Linked DNA regions of Homo sapiens: region 2 is linked to region 1. Evidence: fine-mapped QTL for protein levels in blood plasma. Region 1 holds a variant in brackets. A gene starts in the other region. All regions are shown on their forward strands.

What was found. PIP is the posterior inclusion probability: the model's chance that the variant is causal. Protein levels are from antibody-based Olink assays in UK Biobank. Linkage for the fine-mapping came from a reference panel and not from the study's own genotypes, which makes the PIPs less certain.
Region 2: F13B starts here. The variant in region 1 is fine-mapped to the plasma level of the F13B protein (UK Biobank, PIP 0.98).

The regions. Positions count from the first base shown.
Region 1 is chr9:93,141,793-93,150,131 of GRCh38, forward strand. LOC124902212 (a long non-coding RNA gene) reads left to right here. Exons shown (of 3, transcript XR_007061665.1): 2 at 5,891-6,271; 3 at 6,541-6,577. It overlaps LOC124902213 (a long non-coding RNA gene), which reads left to right and starts at 6,609. Exons shown (of 2, transcript XR_007061667.1): 1 at 6,609-6,638; 2 at 7,074-7,484. RefSeq lists enhancers at 1,160-2,032, 2,033-2,905, 2,493-2,632 and a silencer at 4,655-4,949. The variant A/AT (reference allele first, on the strand shown) is at 3,347.
Region 2 is chr1:197,062,205-197,070,543 of GRCh38, forward strand. F13B (coagulation factor XIII B chain) reads right to left here and starts at 5,056. Exons shown (of 12, transcript NM_001994.3): 1 at 4,956-5,056; 2 at 653-853. The coding sequence starts at 5,019. RefSeq lists an enhancer at 6,164-7,363.

The sequences.
Region 1 (8,339 bases):
AGAAAGACTGTCTATGGGACTATTGGTTGGATTTCAACAGCAGTCACTGCTGAGCACACTGTAGCCCAGGTGGGGTGTGCATGATCTCATTATGGTGTTGTTGTGTCCTTTCTACAGACGGGGAAACTGGGGCTCTGAGAGCTGAGATTCAAACCCAGATTGCCTGAGTCCACACTGCACCCTCTGCCTACTGTGGCTGGGTGCCAGGAGCTACCTCGCAGCCAAGCCAAAGCCCTTTCCTGTCCTGCCTAGGGAATCTCAGCCCACCTCAGGCCCAAGGCTACCCGTAGCTTCCTTGGGGGAGACCTCTGTGAATGTCACAAGAGCCTGCAGTGGGGTGGGGGCTTCAGGCTCAGGCTGTGGAAGCCTCCTGTCCCCACTCCCTCCCTGTCCTGTGGCAGGGAGGGGACAGGGGTCAGCCTGCGACTTCTGAGCATGAGCTCACACCAGTAGAACACCATCACTCCCGGCCTAGAGGGAGTTGTCTGGTCCTGTTTCTGGTTGGGCCTGCGGTTTTCAAACTTGGACATGCATCAGAACTCTGTGAGAACACAGCTCACTGGGACCAGCCCAGAGGGGCTGATGCTGCTGGCCCAGGAACCCTACTCCAAGCCACCGGGCACAGCTGTCCCTGCAAGTTCTGAGGCAGGGATGTGGGCCAAGCTGAGGATTGACGCAGGGGCACAGGTAGGGGAGAGCCTGCTTCTGAGAAGCTGCCCCCTGTAAGTCTGGGGCCCAGTGCCTCCCACAAGCCCTCCCACTGTCCCTCAGCATGAGGCAGGTGTCCCTCCACTGTGGAAAAGTCAGGAGTCATCAGTGTGGCATGTTGGAAACAAACATACTATAAACATACCATTTTTAGTTATTTTCCTTGCATAAATCCGTGAAGGGACGAGGCCTAAAGAGGACTCCGTCCCAAGCCCGAGAGAGTCAGCCCACATGTTTTCATGCTGGTTGGGATCATTGTGTTCAGGCTGGGGATGTCCTCACTGGGTCAAGTAGAGGGTTGGTGAGCACATTCAGGCCAGCAGGTAAGCGAGTGTCGCCTTCATTTTGGTCAAGGATATGTCATCAGGGGCCAGGTGTGGTGGCTCACACCTGTAATCCCAGCACTTTGGGAGGCCAAGGCAGGCGGATCACTTGAGGTCAGGAGTTCGAGACCAGCCTGGCCAACATGACAACACCCCATGTCTACTGAAAATACAAAAATTAGCTAGCGTGGTGGTGCATGCCTGTAATCCCAGCTACTCGGGAGGCTGAGGCACGAGAATTGCCTGAACCAGGGGTTGGAGGTTGCAGCGGGTGGAAATTTTGCCACTGCACTCCAGCCTGGGTGACAGAGTGAGACCCTGTCTCAAAGAAAAAAAAAAAAAGATACATCATCTGGGACAATAACCTTGAAAAGCAGGGGTCCCAGACGACCTTATTTGCAGAGAATGCGACTGCAGACGGCAAGCAGGGGGGCATGCCCTTCGCTCTCTGTCCTCTGCTCTTTGCCCCGGCCACTGTCGGCCTCATCTGAAGGCCACCTGTGCCTCACGGTCTGAAAACGCTGGTTTCCACAGCTGCTTCTCCTTCCAAATTTCCCTGGAGTCTTGCTTTGGTGGCGAACCTCTGGTTCTATTCCTTCCTTTTAACTGAAGCCTATAGGAAAAATTTGGAAGTTGAAATATGCCAGTCCAAGGAAGGTGGACGTGGAGTTCTGAGGGTGGGGGTGCTGCCAGGGAAGTGGCACTGTGCAGGGGACCGCCCCTGGGACCCCCTGGTTCCTGTCAAGAGCAGGTAGGGGCTGGGCGCGGTGGCTCACGCCTATAATCCCAGCACTTTGGGAGGTCAAGGAGAGTGGATCACCTAAGGTCAGGAGTTCAAGACCAGCTGACCAACATGGTGAAACCCCGTCTCTACTAAAAATACAAAAATTAGCTGGGCGTGGTGGCAGGCGCCTATAATCCCAGGTATTCAGGAGGCTGAGGCAGGAGAATAGCTTGAACCCAGGAGGCAGAGGTTGCAGTGAGCTGAGATCGCACCACTGCACTCCAGCCTGGGCGACAGAGCGAGACTCTGTCTACACACACACACACACACACACAGACACACACACACACACAGATCAGGTAGGATGTGAGGTGTGTCCTCATGGCCGGACATGGGGTGGGTGGGGCCAAACAACCACAGGGACTCGTCCTGTGGCCACTGCTGCTCAGGAAGTGGATCCCAAGGAGCAGAGTCGCCAGACCCCTCAGTTCCCAGCTCCACATTTAAGGCAGGTCTGGCCATGAGCCAGGCCTCTGCATGTGACCTGGGGCCTCACTGTGGCATGGCTGCCTGTCCCACCTGTGGATGTTGCCTGTGCTGTGTAGAAGCCACATAGCCTCCGGGGCGGCTCCCCAGAATGCCACATTTCCTGTCTCTGGCTCTGATGGCGTCTAGGCTGGCAGGGGTCCCGGCCCCAGCAGTACTGTTGCCGGGCAGAGCTCAGGGCCACGTGCAGTTGGGTCTGGCTGAGAGCATCTCATGGGTTTATGAGAACCCTTCCAGCACAAAGGGGCATTTATCAGGCAGGGATGGCATGTCTTGGTCTGAACACAGGAAACACAGAAATAGCCTTTCACAGAGTGCCAGCAGGGCTGGGCTCGCCTGCTGTGGAGGGTGTCGGCTTTCCAACTCCTTCTCCAAGCTGTGCGACCCGTCCATGTTCCCCTGTGAGTTGTTCTGTCCCAGACAGGGCATTCCCTGAGAACGCTCCTGCTGCAACTGGAGGGAGAGAGGCAGGGAGGGGAAAGGGGAAGACTTGCAGGGAGAAGGAAGAAGGGAGACAGATGGAGACAGACAGAAGGAGGGATGGAAGAAATGAGAGAGAGAGAGGGAGGGAGATGGAAACATAGATTGTCTCCACTGTGACACCCTGCCTCCATGGTTCTCCATGATGGGAATGGAATTCATGTCTCACCTGGCAGCAAGGGTCTCCACAATATGACTTCACCTTCTTTCTCTTAGTAAGGCGAGAGCAGACAGGCAGACACTCCAGGAAGTAACTGATGTGTCCCTGAAAATGCCTGTCTTTCCCAGCTTGTACAACTTTGCTTGTGTTATTTCTTCTGCCTATAATGACTCTCAAAATATCCAGATTGCAAAAGAATTAAGCCCCTTTTGATACCTATAAATAATTTCTATCATTGTAATATACTAAAAACCAATGATAGTAAGGTTTTGGAGAGGTAAAAAGCAGTCTCGTTGCCAGTACAGAGATTGAAGATTCAAAGGCTTCACTAATTAGGATGTGTTTTTCTCTCACATGAAAAAAGCCTGGATATAGGCAATCTAAGGCCAGCATGGTACCCCCGTA[A/AT]TTTTTTTTTTTTTGAGATGGAGTTTCACTCAGGCTGGAGTGCAATGGTGCAATCTCAGCTCACTGCAACCTCTGCCCCCGGGTTCAAGTGATTCTCCTTTCTCAGCCTCCCAGGTAGTTGGGATTACAGGTGCCTGCTGCCCCACCCAGCTATTTTTTTTTTTTTTGTATTTTTAGTAAAGACAGGTTTCCATCATGTTGGCCAGGTTGGTCTCGACCTCCTGACCTCAAGTGATCCAGCCACCTTGGCCTCCCATAGTGCTGGGATTACAGGCCTGAGCCACCGTGCCTGGCCTGTTTCTTTTTTTTTTTTTTTTTTTGAGACGGAGTCTCACTCTGTCGCCCAGTCTGGAGTGCAGTGGTGTGATCTTGGCTCACTGTAAGCTCCGCCTTCCGGGTTCACACCATTCTCCTGCCTCAGCCTCCTGAGTAGCTGGGACTACAGGTGCCCGCCACCACACCCAGCTAATTTTTTGTATTTTTTAGTAGAGAACGGGGTTTCACCGTATTAGCCAGAATGGTCTCGATCCCCTGACCTCATGATCCACCCGCCTCGACCTCCCAAAGTGCTGGGATTACAGGCGTGAGCCACCATGCCCAGCCGTGTGGCCTGTTTCTTTTGTTTCTGTTTTTGTGTTTTGAGACAGAGTCTTGCTCTGTCTCCCAGGCTGGAGTGCAGTGGGGCAATCTCGGCTCACTGCAACCTCTGCCTCCTGGGTTCAAGCAATTCTCTTGCTTCAGCCTCCTGAGTAGCTGGGATTACAGGTGCCCACTACCATGCCTGGCTAATTTTTGTATTTTTAGTAGACGGGGTTTCACCCTGTGGGTGAGGCTGGTCTCGAACTCCTGACCTCAAGTGATTTGCCCTCCTTGGCCACCCAAAGTGCTGGGATTACAGGCGTGAGCCACCATGCTTGGCCCCCATAATGTTACTGGGGATCTTTCTTTTCTGCTTTGCAAAGTGTATAAATTCCATCCTCAAAGTAGCCTCATGGTCCATGAGGGCTGCTGGCTAGCCAACCATCACAGCAGGAAGCAGATGTTGGGAGCACAGCAGGGCTCATTTCCAGTTGTCCCCTCTTATGGAGCTTTCCAGATGACCCACTCAATTAATTCTTCTTACATTTCATTGCTACCACTATTTACAAGGTAGGCTAGGTACAGTGTCCCTCAGAATAAAATCAGAGCTCATTTCCTGCGGAACACAGCTGGGTTATCTGCATTGTCTGCCTCAGGCCAGCACCTGTAAATACAGCTGGTGGAGAGGGGCAGTGGCTGATTCTTCTGGGTGGCAAATTTTAAAATATATGCCAAGAGTGATTCAAATATTCATTTCCTCTCATGTAGTCTCAAGTGTGTGACTTTATGTTTGGGAAACCCAAAGAAAGGTGGAGAAGCACATGCATGAAGATATCCATTGCCCCCTGATTGTTAAGCATGACAAGTCAGAAACAACTGAAATTTCCAACAGTGGGAAAAACACAAGCATGCTATGTTCTGAAATTCACTTGGTGGAATGTTCCGTCAGTCACTGTGATATGGTTTGGCTGTGTCCCCACCCAAATCTCATCTTGAATTGTAGCTCCCATAATTCCCTTGTGTTGTGGGAGGGACCCAGTGGGAGATAAATGAATCATGGGGGCGGTTTCCCCCATACTGTTCTCGTGGTAGTGAATAAGGATCATGAGATCTGATGGTTTAATATGGGGAAACCCCTGTCTCTTCGCTGTCATTCTTCTCATGTCTGCCACCATGTGAGACGTGCCTTTCGCCTTCCATCATGATTGTGAGGCCTCCCCAGCCACATGGAACTGTGAGTCGGTTAAATCTCTTTCTTTTGTAAATTGCCCAGTCTCCAGTATGTCTTTATAGCAGCATGAAAACTGACTAATACACACTACACACTGTAAATGTTAGTCATGGAGGATGTGTACCAACATGGAAGAGTGTTTACAATGTATCTTTAGAGAAAAGATGGACTATCCAAGTATGCATACTGGAATTATCATTAGATTACCATACATCTGGGTGAGGAGCAGAACAGAGACATAAGGTGAGTTTGTGGGCAAGGTTTTCTTTTTAAACTTCCCAAAAGCTTGCTTTACATACATGTAGGCTTAAATAATTTTTTTTTGAGAGATAGTTTCACTCTTATTGCCCAGGCTGGAGTGCAGTGGCACAATCTCAGCTCACTGCAACCTCCGCCTCCCGGGTTCAAGTGATTCTCCTGCCTCAGCCTCCTGAATAGCTGGGATTACAGGCACCCGCCTCCAAGCCCAGCTAACTTTTTGTATTTTTAATAGAGATGGGGTTTCATCATGTTGGCCAGGCTGGTCTTGAACATCTGACCTCAAGTGATCCACCTGCCTCGGCCTCCCAAAGTGCTGGGATTACAGACATGAGCCACCATGCCCAGCCAAATAACATTTTTCTTATTTTAAAAAGTAAGTTCATTGTAAAAAGTTTAGAAAACAAAGGTAAGAAAAAAAATAATTCTGTTGCCCAGAAATAAAAACTGTCCATGTTTTGATATTGTATCCTCAGTAACAGCAACCGTGAACCTCAGAGGCAGCCAAGGGTGAGTATTTATGTCTTGCTCTTGCACCTGTGGGTTGGTTGGCATTTGGCTGATCTTGGTGGACTTGGTCCCAACTGTGGCCTTGCTCTGTGTGTCTCTCATTCTCCTGGGCCCACCTGGTTCTCAGGAAATGTTCCTCCCATATGGAAAGTCAGAAGCTGCCAGAGAGGCAAGTGGAGCATGCAAGACAACTGATGGCATAGTCTCAGAACTGACCATGAATACTGCTCTCCACTTTCCATTGACCAAAGCAAGTCCAACGTTGTGGGAAAGGGTCCCTCACCCACAGTGGGAGGTGAGGGGTGTGGACACTTGCCACTTGCTGATTGATGACCAAAATATCCCAGGTATATACCCTTTCACACTTTTCCTATGCTTTTTTAAATAAAGACACTCTTTACCAATCAGAATCACTCTACATATTGTTTTGCCACTCAGTTATATGTATGACTACATCTTTTTATGTCATAAAAATTCTTCTGCAACATGTGACTGCTTGCAATTCTATTTTGTGGTCATATCATGATTTATTCAACCTGATGGACATTTATCTTTTCCTTTATTTATTTATTTATTTAGTTATTTACTAAGATGGATTTTCCCTCTTGTCACCCAGGCTGGAGTGCAATGGCACCATCGCGGCTCACTGCAACCTCCACCTCCTGGGTTCAAGCGATTCTCCTGCCTCAGCCTCCCGAGTAGCTGGGATTACAGGTGCCCACCACCACGCCCAGCTAATTTGTGTATTTTTAGTAGAGACGGGTTTCACCATGCTGGCCTCGAACTCCTGACTTCAGGTGATCCACCTGCCTCGGCCTCCCAAAGTGCCGGGATTACAGGTGTGAGCCACTGTGCCTGGCATCCTTCTTTTTTTCTTCTGAAAACAACACTATAATGGCCATCCTCTCCTGGTATATAAATCTCTGCACACATACTTGAGTGATTTAAGAATTAATTGCCAGCCTCAGGATGGCCCCCAATGATCCTTGCTTCCGTATTCATAACCAGCATAGTCTCCCTTCCCAGTAAATCAGGGAGACTGCATGTGGCCAGTAAATTCCAGCAGAGGTAGATGGTGTGTGACGTCTAAGGCTGGGTCATAAAGCACACTGTGGCTTCAGACTTTCCCTTCTGGACTGCTCATTTTAGGGGAAGCCAGCCACCATGTCATAAGGACAAAGCAGCCCTGAGGAGAACCAATCCCTTGGGGAGGAACTCGGCCCCCAGTCAGCAGCCAATACCAACTTGCCCATGTGTGAGTTAGTCACCTTGAAAGTGGATCTGCTGTCCCAGCCAAGCCTTCAGATGAGACCACAGCTCTGGCCAACACCTGACTGCAGCCTCATGAGAGACCCAGAGAACCATCCTGTTGAGTCTCTCTTGAATTCTTGGCCCATAGAAATTGCTAGTGATAGTAAATTATTCTTGTTTTTTAAACCACTAAGTTTTAGGTTAATTTATTACACAGCAGGAATGATAACTTAAATGGTGACTATTTTGGTCAAAAGAGGCCAGGCTCTGCTACAGTATCAAATAAACCACACTTGATGGCTAATACAATAAGGTTTATTTCATACTCACTTACACCTGATGTGGGTAGGAGGGCTCTCCTGCTTGGCACGCAAGTCCCAGGGATGCAGAGTATTTTCACCTAGAAGCAGGTCACTTCTTCTCACATTCAGGTGGTGAGAAAGCTGTGTTATCACACCCAGGAGCATGGAGCCAAGAAACATAGTTTAGTTGTATGCCCCAGAATATAACTAAATAAACGTTTAGTATTGCCTCTGCCACAGTGAATCAAGAGAAATGAAAGTGACTACTATGTATTTGAAAAGTAAAAATTCCCAGAAGTACAGAAATGCATATTGAAACTGATTCATGATTTTTCACTTCCTGTGGAATAAACAAAACTCCCTTTTTGAAATCTGAGAATATCCAAACTTCCACAATTGCTACAGGATAAACACTTCCATATACAGCTGGTAGGAATAAGAATAGGCTTGACTTTTCCAGATGATAAAGTTGCAAGATTTATCCACAGCCTTTAAAATATTTATATTCCTTGACCCAAATAATTTTGCTTCTGGGAATCTATTATAGGGAGATATATATATATATATATATATATATATTTTTTTTTTTTTTTTTTTTTTTGAGACGGAGTCTTGCATGTCACCCAGGCTGGAATGCAGTGGTGCAATCTCGGCTTGCTGCAAGCTCCGCCTCCCAGGTTCACACCATTCTCCTGCCTCAGCCTCTTGAGTAGCTGGGACTACAGGCGCCCGCCACCACGCCTGGCTAATTTTTTGTATTTTTAGTAGAGATGAGGTTTCACTGTGTTAGCCAGGATGGTCTCTATCTCCTGACCTCGTGATCCCCCTGCCTCGGCCTCCCAAAGTGTTGGGATTACAGGCG
Region 2 (8,339 bases), not on the chromosome of region 1:
TATCAACCACAATAGCCATATTCAACATCCTCTTTTAAACGAAACTGGCTCAACCAAAGCCCCTTACTCTGGGTCACCTGCCCTAGTGGAAGATCATTGATAGTTTGATGATAGTGTAGCCTGATATAAAATAATGAAATGAGTCAATTAGATTACCTTCTCACAACTTTGAACTCAAACTTTCAATTCAAAATTGAAAAACACATTTTTCAATGGGTATCATGAGAGAAGTTGGCACATGAAGAGAGATGAGTCTTACAAATGATAAAGCATTAGAGTAGCAATCTTGCCCTTCCAGAGGCCAGAGTTTCAAGCATTTTTCTGGCATCTTATGCTTAATTATCAAAATAAGTTTCTTGTTACTTAAAGTAAATTACCTCTCTTTGCCTTGCAATATGATAATTTCAGTTATTACCCTATTCCCTTCAACAGAGTATTATTAAAAACAGATACAGAAAATAACATTTTAATGTAAAAGCATTATTTACTGGATTTCAAATTATGCCTTCATTTTGTAGAAAGACAGATTGCTAGTGATTTTGTTCTTATCTACTAAAAGGTTTAACCGCTTTCCATTTTTATTGGACCCCTATTTTTATATACAAATTTCTTTGAGTATTGAAACATTGAGTGACATATCCAGCTGACTTACTGAAGCACCTTGGCTCTGGAGACCAGCCTTCTGTTGTACACGTGGTTTGCTCTTCTTGTCTTCCACTTTCAGTGGTATAACCAGCCAAGCAGAAAAATGACAATTTTTTGTCTATGCTCATTGGAAAGTAAAAGCTTTTAAAAGTATAGTAATATTGGGCAATTCTTCCATTTTCCACATGAGGAAAACCACAGGGTTTCTCTGAAATGAGTAAATGTCAAGCTGAAAATGGAAAAACAAATCTAAAAACATAAATTTGTAATCAGGTGACAATACAAACTAAAAGTTTTTAGAGACACTTCAACTAGTACTTATTTTTCTTACTTAAATTTTTAAGGTACTTTTGTGACAACTCAAGCAGTCCTTTTATCATAATTGATCTGCAAATGACTTTAAACATCCAACAGTCATGATAAAATTTAGCAGACCACTTTTTCAGGGAAGCTTTGCATAACTTCGTAGAACAGTACTTTTTTTTTTCTTCCTAGACACAGAGTCTTCCTCAGTTATCCAAGCTTCAGTGCAGTGCTGAAATATAGCTCACTGCCACCAGGAGCTCCTGGGCTTAAGCAAGCCTCCTCTCCTGTAGCTAGGACTGCAGGCACATGCCACCACATCTGGCTAATTTTTGTTTTATTTTTTGTAGAGATGAGGGGTCTCACTCTGTTGCTCACGCTGGTCTCAAACTCCTGGACTCAAAGGATCCTTCTGCTTTGGCCTCCCAAAGCACTAGGATTACAAGACTTGAACCACTCCACCCTGCCTGCACTTCCTAATAGATATGTATTGTAAGTCACTTATGTAATTTAAAAATTTCTAATAGTCACATTCATAAAAATACTAAGGAACAATTGAAGTTAGTTTTAATAATAGGTTTTTATTTAACCCAATATATTGAAAATATTTTACATTCTTTTTTTTTCTAACTCTTTAAAATCCACTACATATTTATACTTACAGAATATCTGATCTTGAACTAGTGACATTTTAAGTACTGTCTCCAATAGCTATATGTGGCTGATGGCCACTGTATTGGACAGTACAGTTCAGGAATAGGTAAAGTTTCTCCTTAACATATGCTAACTCATAAAAAATTTTGAAATAAATAGCATTAAAAGAAAAAACAGACAACCAAGTAAAACAAAGCAATACTTGGCAAGAACTTGGCAAAATAGGATATTTAAATGGTTAGAGACCTGGTACTTAGCATTACTAGTCATCAGGGAAATGAAAATTTAAACCACCATGAGATACTACTGCATATCCAATAGAACTGCTGAAATGAAAAAGACAAGCTATCTCAATGATTGTGAAGAAGTGAAGAAACTGGAACTCGCATATTTCTACAACTGAAAGTATAAATCAGTCCAAACTCTATGAGAGAACACCTTTGCAATATATATTGGGGTAAAACATGTACAAACCATATTACCCAATAAAAAAAGCACATATTTGTATACCAAAAGACATGGAAAAAAATGCTTATAGTGGCAGTATTCATATAGTCCCAAACTGGGAACAATCTAAATGCCCATAAATAATAGAAAAGATAAACACATTTTAGACTATGCATACAATGGAATATTATCCAACAACAGAAATGAACAAATGGTGAATCTCATAAACATAATATTGAGTGAAAGAAGCCAATCACATATGAATTAATGTATACATTTGCATAACTTTTTAAAAGAAAACAAACTAATCCATGATAATAGAAGTCAGAATGGTTACCTTTGGGGTTTAGTGCCTTAGAAGGATCATATTTCTGGGGTACTATCACTGTTCTATATCTTGATCTGGATGGTGTAAAATTTTGTAAAAACTATATAAGTGTATCCTGTGATTTTTGCATTTTTCTGGATATGTTATACTCCAAATAAAACATATATTTTAAAAATATATCTTTATGTTGAAGATCTTAAAGTCATAAAAACACTTAAAAGAAAGAAATGCTCGAACAATCCTAGGAGCTGTGGTGGGAAGAAACATGGGCAGTCATGGATGGAAGAAGGCCTAGATCCAGTGTGATTACTACGGCTTCAATGCCTTGGTTGATCACTGTATACCTTAATGCTACTATGAGACATAAAATACTAGTAGTGCTAGCCTAGGTTTGAAGGAAATGGATGTGGAATGATGAGCAACAAAACTTCCACTATCTGATGGAGCAGACAGAAAAACATGGGCTGGATAGTCCCCATTCCTTGAGAATTATTCTCACCATTTTTTCACACCCAAGCACCAAAGGAATTTACAATAAAAAGAGTCTTCCAAAATAGCAGTGCAATGGTGAATACACAAGAAATTTCCCTGAGGGGCACAGTTGCTTGTCAGGGAGGGGCAGCAAAGTATTCTCTGCACAACAATCCTAGGTTGTGGCTTTAAAGACTCTCTGTCCTGGGACATCTCCCTCCACCACCAGGATAGGCACATTATTTGTTAAGGTAGCTGGAATGCCTTGGAGAATATGAATTCCTGACAAAAAATTAATGAGAAATGTGAGGAATATACTAATCACATATAAACCAGGAAATCACAGATGTCTGAACATATTAAAAAAAGTACATGAAGCGATGGACACACTTACTACTGATCAGAGAATGGTAAATAAATAAAAATGGGATATCACTTTATGAATAACCATATAGCAACCAGTACAAAAATGGACAATATGAGGTGTTGGTGAGAATGATGAGGAGCAACAATTTACATCCTCTCTCAGAGATGATATACTTCAAAACTGCCATTCTGCAAAAGTAATCTCTCATTACAGAAATCAAGTACAAGAATAGACTCAATAATGCTATCTGTGAGTGAATACAGACTGATGACATTCTTACAGAAAGATAAGTTGGTTATATTACAATATTCATTCCAGAGCTATTTGTGGTTGAGAGAGCTAGAGTAACATGTTAAAACATTGTAGTAGGTCCCAGGGGAAATGGACTTCAAGATTAGGAATAAGGGGATAAAATGTGTAAGTAAAGCAAGAGTGAGACCTTTCATAGGCCAATAATACTTGCATACCATGAAATGAGAAACACAATTAATTCAATTCTTGTCCCTGAAGTGCACAATGGGAGTTGAGAGAAGCATGCAAAAATAAAATCATTGTCTTGGTCTTCAAGCAGCTTACTTTTTTTTTTGTTGTGTAAAATAGCATTATAACCTTATAATAATTAGAAAATTAACTAGAATATTGCAATGTCTTTATGGTATAGATAACAGACAATTATATCTGCTGGTATTTCCCTATTTAGACAGAAAAATAAAATCAAAAGAAATTCATGCAAAAATCATCCTATTATAGAATTAAAAGTATAAAATAAGATTAATTCTGTGTCTTTCACTTTTATAATTTTAATTATAGATGTTTTGGTAGAAAATTTATAGTTAACTATTCAACTAAAACACAGTTAAAACTTATGTATTTAATTTCAACAAATTCCCAAAAATGTTTATTTTAGAAAAGCTGTATTGCTGTAGCTTCCTTCTTTGTATGTTCACTCTTGCTAATGCTAAGTGTCCTCCCTGGATTCTTCATCCTATGGCCTGATAATATTGATAATGTTCCTGAACAACATACCCATGTACACTGCCTAGCTTCCACTCGCACACTAATCTTACACATTGGGCAATCTGACTATAAAGCTTTCTAATAGGGAGTCCATAGGTATTGGTTTGTTTGGAAAGTCCTGATTTACATGTGTTGTCCAAACAGTTATTAATAGAGCCCCTCTTTTACTCTCTAAGTGTCCCTGTTTGTACAAGCAATTATATGGTTCACCTACTAATCACTACTTAATGTCTCCAACAAATGAATAATTCATTGTGATAAAAATCAAAGTCTCAAAAGTAAAAAATATTTATGGCTATTTCCTTTTCAAATTTCCCACATTAAACTCTCACCTTATGAACAGAATTAAAATTGTACAAGTTTTGTCAGTATTAGGAATGGATTCTAGCATAAATTTAGAATTAAAGTTAACATGTGACTTCGAAATGGACATATTGTTAACCTGAAAACCTTTTCGAAGTATTTAGATCCTGGTCTCCTATGCCCCCTAGAGATACAAGGGTTTTTGTTTTGTTTTGCTTTTCTGACTTATGCTACTGTAAGAACACTTTACTAATTTTGCTCAAAGGAAAAGGTCTAAATATTATAAAAAGTTATATTTATAAAATATGTTATAAAATTGATAATGAAAATAGAAGAGTATATTAAAACTTGAGTTGTATAAATATTAGAATCTCCATTTGTATGTTTTAGAGAATAAAGAATATTAAGAATTAATTTTACCTTCTGCATAGAGTTCTCCTGAGATTATCAATATGATGATAAAAGTCAGGTTTTTCAACCTCATCTTCAGTGGTGTGCTTCACAAAGATTTTAACAATTCTAAGCACTAGGAACTTGTCATTAAGTACACAATACTTCTCTTGAGGAAAAAGTTAATAATTTATAACCTCTGTCTAAGTCCTTTTGTAACGAGTCTTATATTTCACTTAAAATATTTTGAAATAATGTTAAAATAACACAACTATATTAATTGACATTACTTACCATGTCAGAGTCCAGTAAGAGCATGATAACTGATTAGGGCAACAATAGCAGCAGAATAAATAATAAATTATAGCAGCAGAATAAATAATACTAGGTAAATTTTCAACCTAAGTTCCCAATTGTAAATTCATAGAGTAAAGTTCACTTGAGGCCATAGATCTTTACTAATATTGATCAGGTAAAAAGATGAACTTAGGAACATGAGATAACAGATACCTGATGTTGAAATATGTTGTTGCCTAGACTGCACTCCTTAAAGAGATACAGAACCATAGTTGTCTCAATGATAGAATAGTATTACTTATAATAGTAGTGTTTGACATTTAGAGAGTTTTTACTTTGTGGCAGGTGGTGAGATCAGCACTGTGCTATATCAACATTCATTCATGAGAAATGTTTAGAACGTCCATGATAATGGCAGCACATGTAACAGTTTTGAGGTATTTAGCAGTGAAAAAACTGGATTAAAATTATTGCCCTCATGGAGTTTACATTCTAATGAGTTTTAATTTAAAATACAAAATAGGAAAAAATGGTGGATAGGAGGCAGGACTAACTTGCAGCTCCCACTTGGATGGACAGAGCAGGATGTGGAGACTCGCATTGTGAACTTTTGCTCCAAGAACTGCTGCAAGGATATAACAGGAAAGCCAAGATAATCCACAGACCCTCTGAAGAAAGTATATTGCTCCTGCATGACCCAGAAAATAGCCCACATACTGTGAATGCCCAAACTGTGAAAAGTGTGAAAGGGGTATTGTCCACCCCTGAACACACACCCTTGGGGAACCTGAAGGTCTAGATCACAGGAGAAGGATTTGACCTTACCTGGAGCTCAGACAATTTAGAGAGCTGAGCGAAATACAGGGGTAGAGGAAGCAAAGGGTAAAGCCCCATCGTCTCTGTGGGTCCCCAGAGAAGCCATTTCTGACTTGTCTCACAGGGGCTGCCGGAGGAACTGGGAAAAGACCACAGGGAGAAGGAAACCTCCAGCTGAACTTAGTAACAATTCCAACCGAACACAAACTTTCCTGTCCAGAACTCAGGAAAGGGCGTGAATCTGGTGTGCAGACTTAACAGGTAGGGAGGCACAAAAGTCTGGCTTGCATTCTCAGCTGGGAGGCTAGTAGCCTGGGGCAAGTTCTCAATCCTGCTCCCCTACTGCCTGGAAACAAATTCGGTGCTTTTTGGGGGAACACAGTAGAAGTGAGATTTGCTTGTTGGGTTGTGTGAGAGCTGGGTGAGGTCTGTAACTGCCAGCTTTCCCCCACTTCCCTGACAACCTGCATGACACAGAAGAGGCAGCCATAATCCTCCTGGGAAGGTAACTCCATTAACCTGGGAATCACACCCCCATTCCCCACAGAGCCACAACAAGCCCCACCCAAGAAGACTCTGAGCTCAGACATGCCTAACCCTGCCCCCACCTGATGGTCCTTCCCTACCCACCCTGGTAGCTGAAGACAAAGGTCATATTCTCTTGGAAGTTCTAGTGTCCCACCCACCACCTGATCCTCCCCTATATACCACAGCTGATGCTCTCATGAAAGCACTACCTCATGGCAGTGTGTCTGGAATTGGTTCCTTCCAATGGGTTCTTGGTCTTGCTGACTTCAAGAATGAAGCTGCGGACGCTTGCGGTGAGCATTACAGTTTTTAAAGATGGTGTGTCCGGAGTTTGTTCCTCTGATGTTCAGATGTGTCCAGAGTTTCTTCCTTCTGGTGGGTTCCTGGTCTTGCTGACTTCAGGAGTGAAGCCGCAGACCTTCACAGTGAGTGTTACAGCTCTAAAAGATGGTGCGTCCGGAGTTGTTTCTTCCTCCTGGTGGGTTCGAGGTCTTGCTGACTTCAGGAGTGAAGCCACAGACCTTCGCGGTGAGTGTTACAGCTCATAAAGGTAGTGCAGACCCAAAAAGAGAGCAGCAGCAAGATTTATTGCAAAGAGCGAAAGAACAAAGTTTCCACAGCCTGGAAGGGGACCAGACCAGGTTGCTGCGGCTGGCTCGGGTGGCCAGCTTTTATTCCCTTATTTGGCTCCGCCCACATCCCGCTGATTGGCACATTTTACAGAGTGCTGGTTGGTCTGTTTTTACAAAGTGCTGATTGGTGCATTTACAAACCTTTAGCTAGACACAGAGCGCTGATTGGTGTGTTTACAATCCTTTAGCTAGACAGAAAAGTTCTCCAAGTCCCCATTCGACCCAGGAAGTCCAGCTGGCTTCACCTCTCAGCAGGAGGCCAACCAGCACCAAACTAGTGCATCAAACAACTACAACTAAGGACCCTCACAGAGTTCCTTTCACTCCCCTGCCACCTCTACTGGAACAGGTGCTGGTATCCATGACTGAGAGAACTGAAGACAGTTTACATCACAGGACTCTATGCAGACAACCCCCAGTACCAGCCCAGAGCCTGGTAGCCCTTCTGGTGGCTAGATCCAGAAAAGTAATAATAATCACTACAGTTTGGCTCTCAGGAAGTCACATCCCTAGGAAAAGGGGGAGAATACTACATCAAGGGAGCACCCCGTGGGACAAAAGAATCTGAACAGCAGCCTTGAGCCCCAGATCTCCCCTCTGACATAGCCTACCCAAAAGAGAAGGAACTAGAAAAACAATTTTGGTATTATGACAAAACAAGGTTCTTTAACACCACCCAAAAATCACACTAGCTCATCAGCAATGGATCCAAACCAAGAAGAAATTCCTGAACTGCCAGAAAAAGAATTCAGAAGTTTGATTATTAAGCTAATCAAGGAGGCACCAGAGAGAGGTGAAATCCAACTTAAGGATATCAAAAAAATGACACAAGATATGAGCGGAGAAATCTTCAGTGAAATAGATAGCATAAATAAAAAACAGTCACAACTTCAAGAAATAAAGAACACACTTAGAGAAAAGCAAAATGTACTGGAAAGTCTCAGCAATATAATAAAACAAGCAGAAGAAAGAACTTCAGAGCTTGAAGACAAGGTTTTCGAAGTAATCCAATCCAAAAAAGACAAAGAAAAAAATTTAAGTGAATAAAGCCTCCAAGAAGTTTGGGATTATGTTAAATGACTAAACCTAAGAATAATTGGTGTTCCTGAGGAAGAAGAAAAATCTGAAAATTTGGAAAACA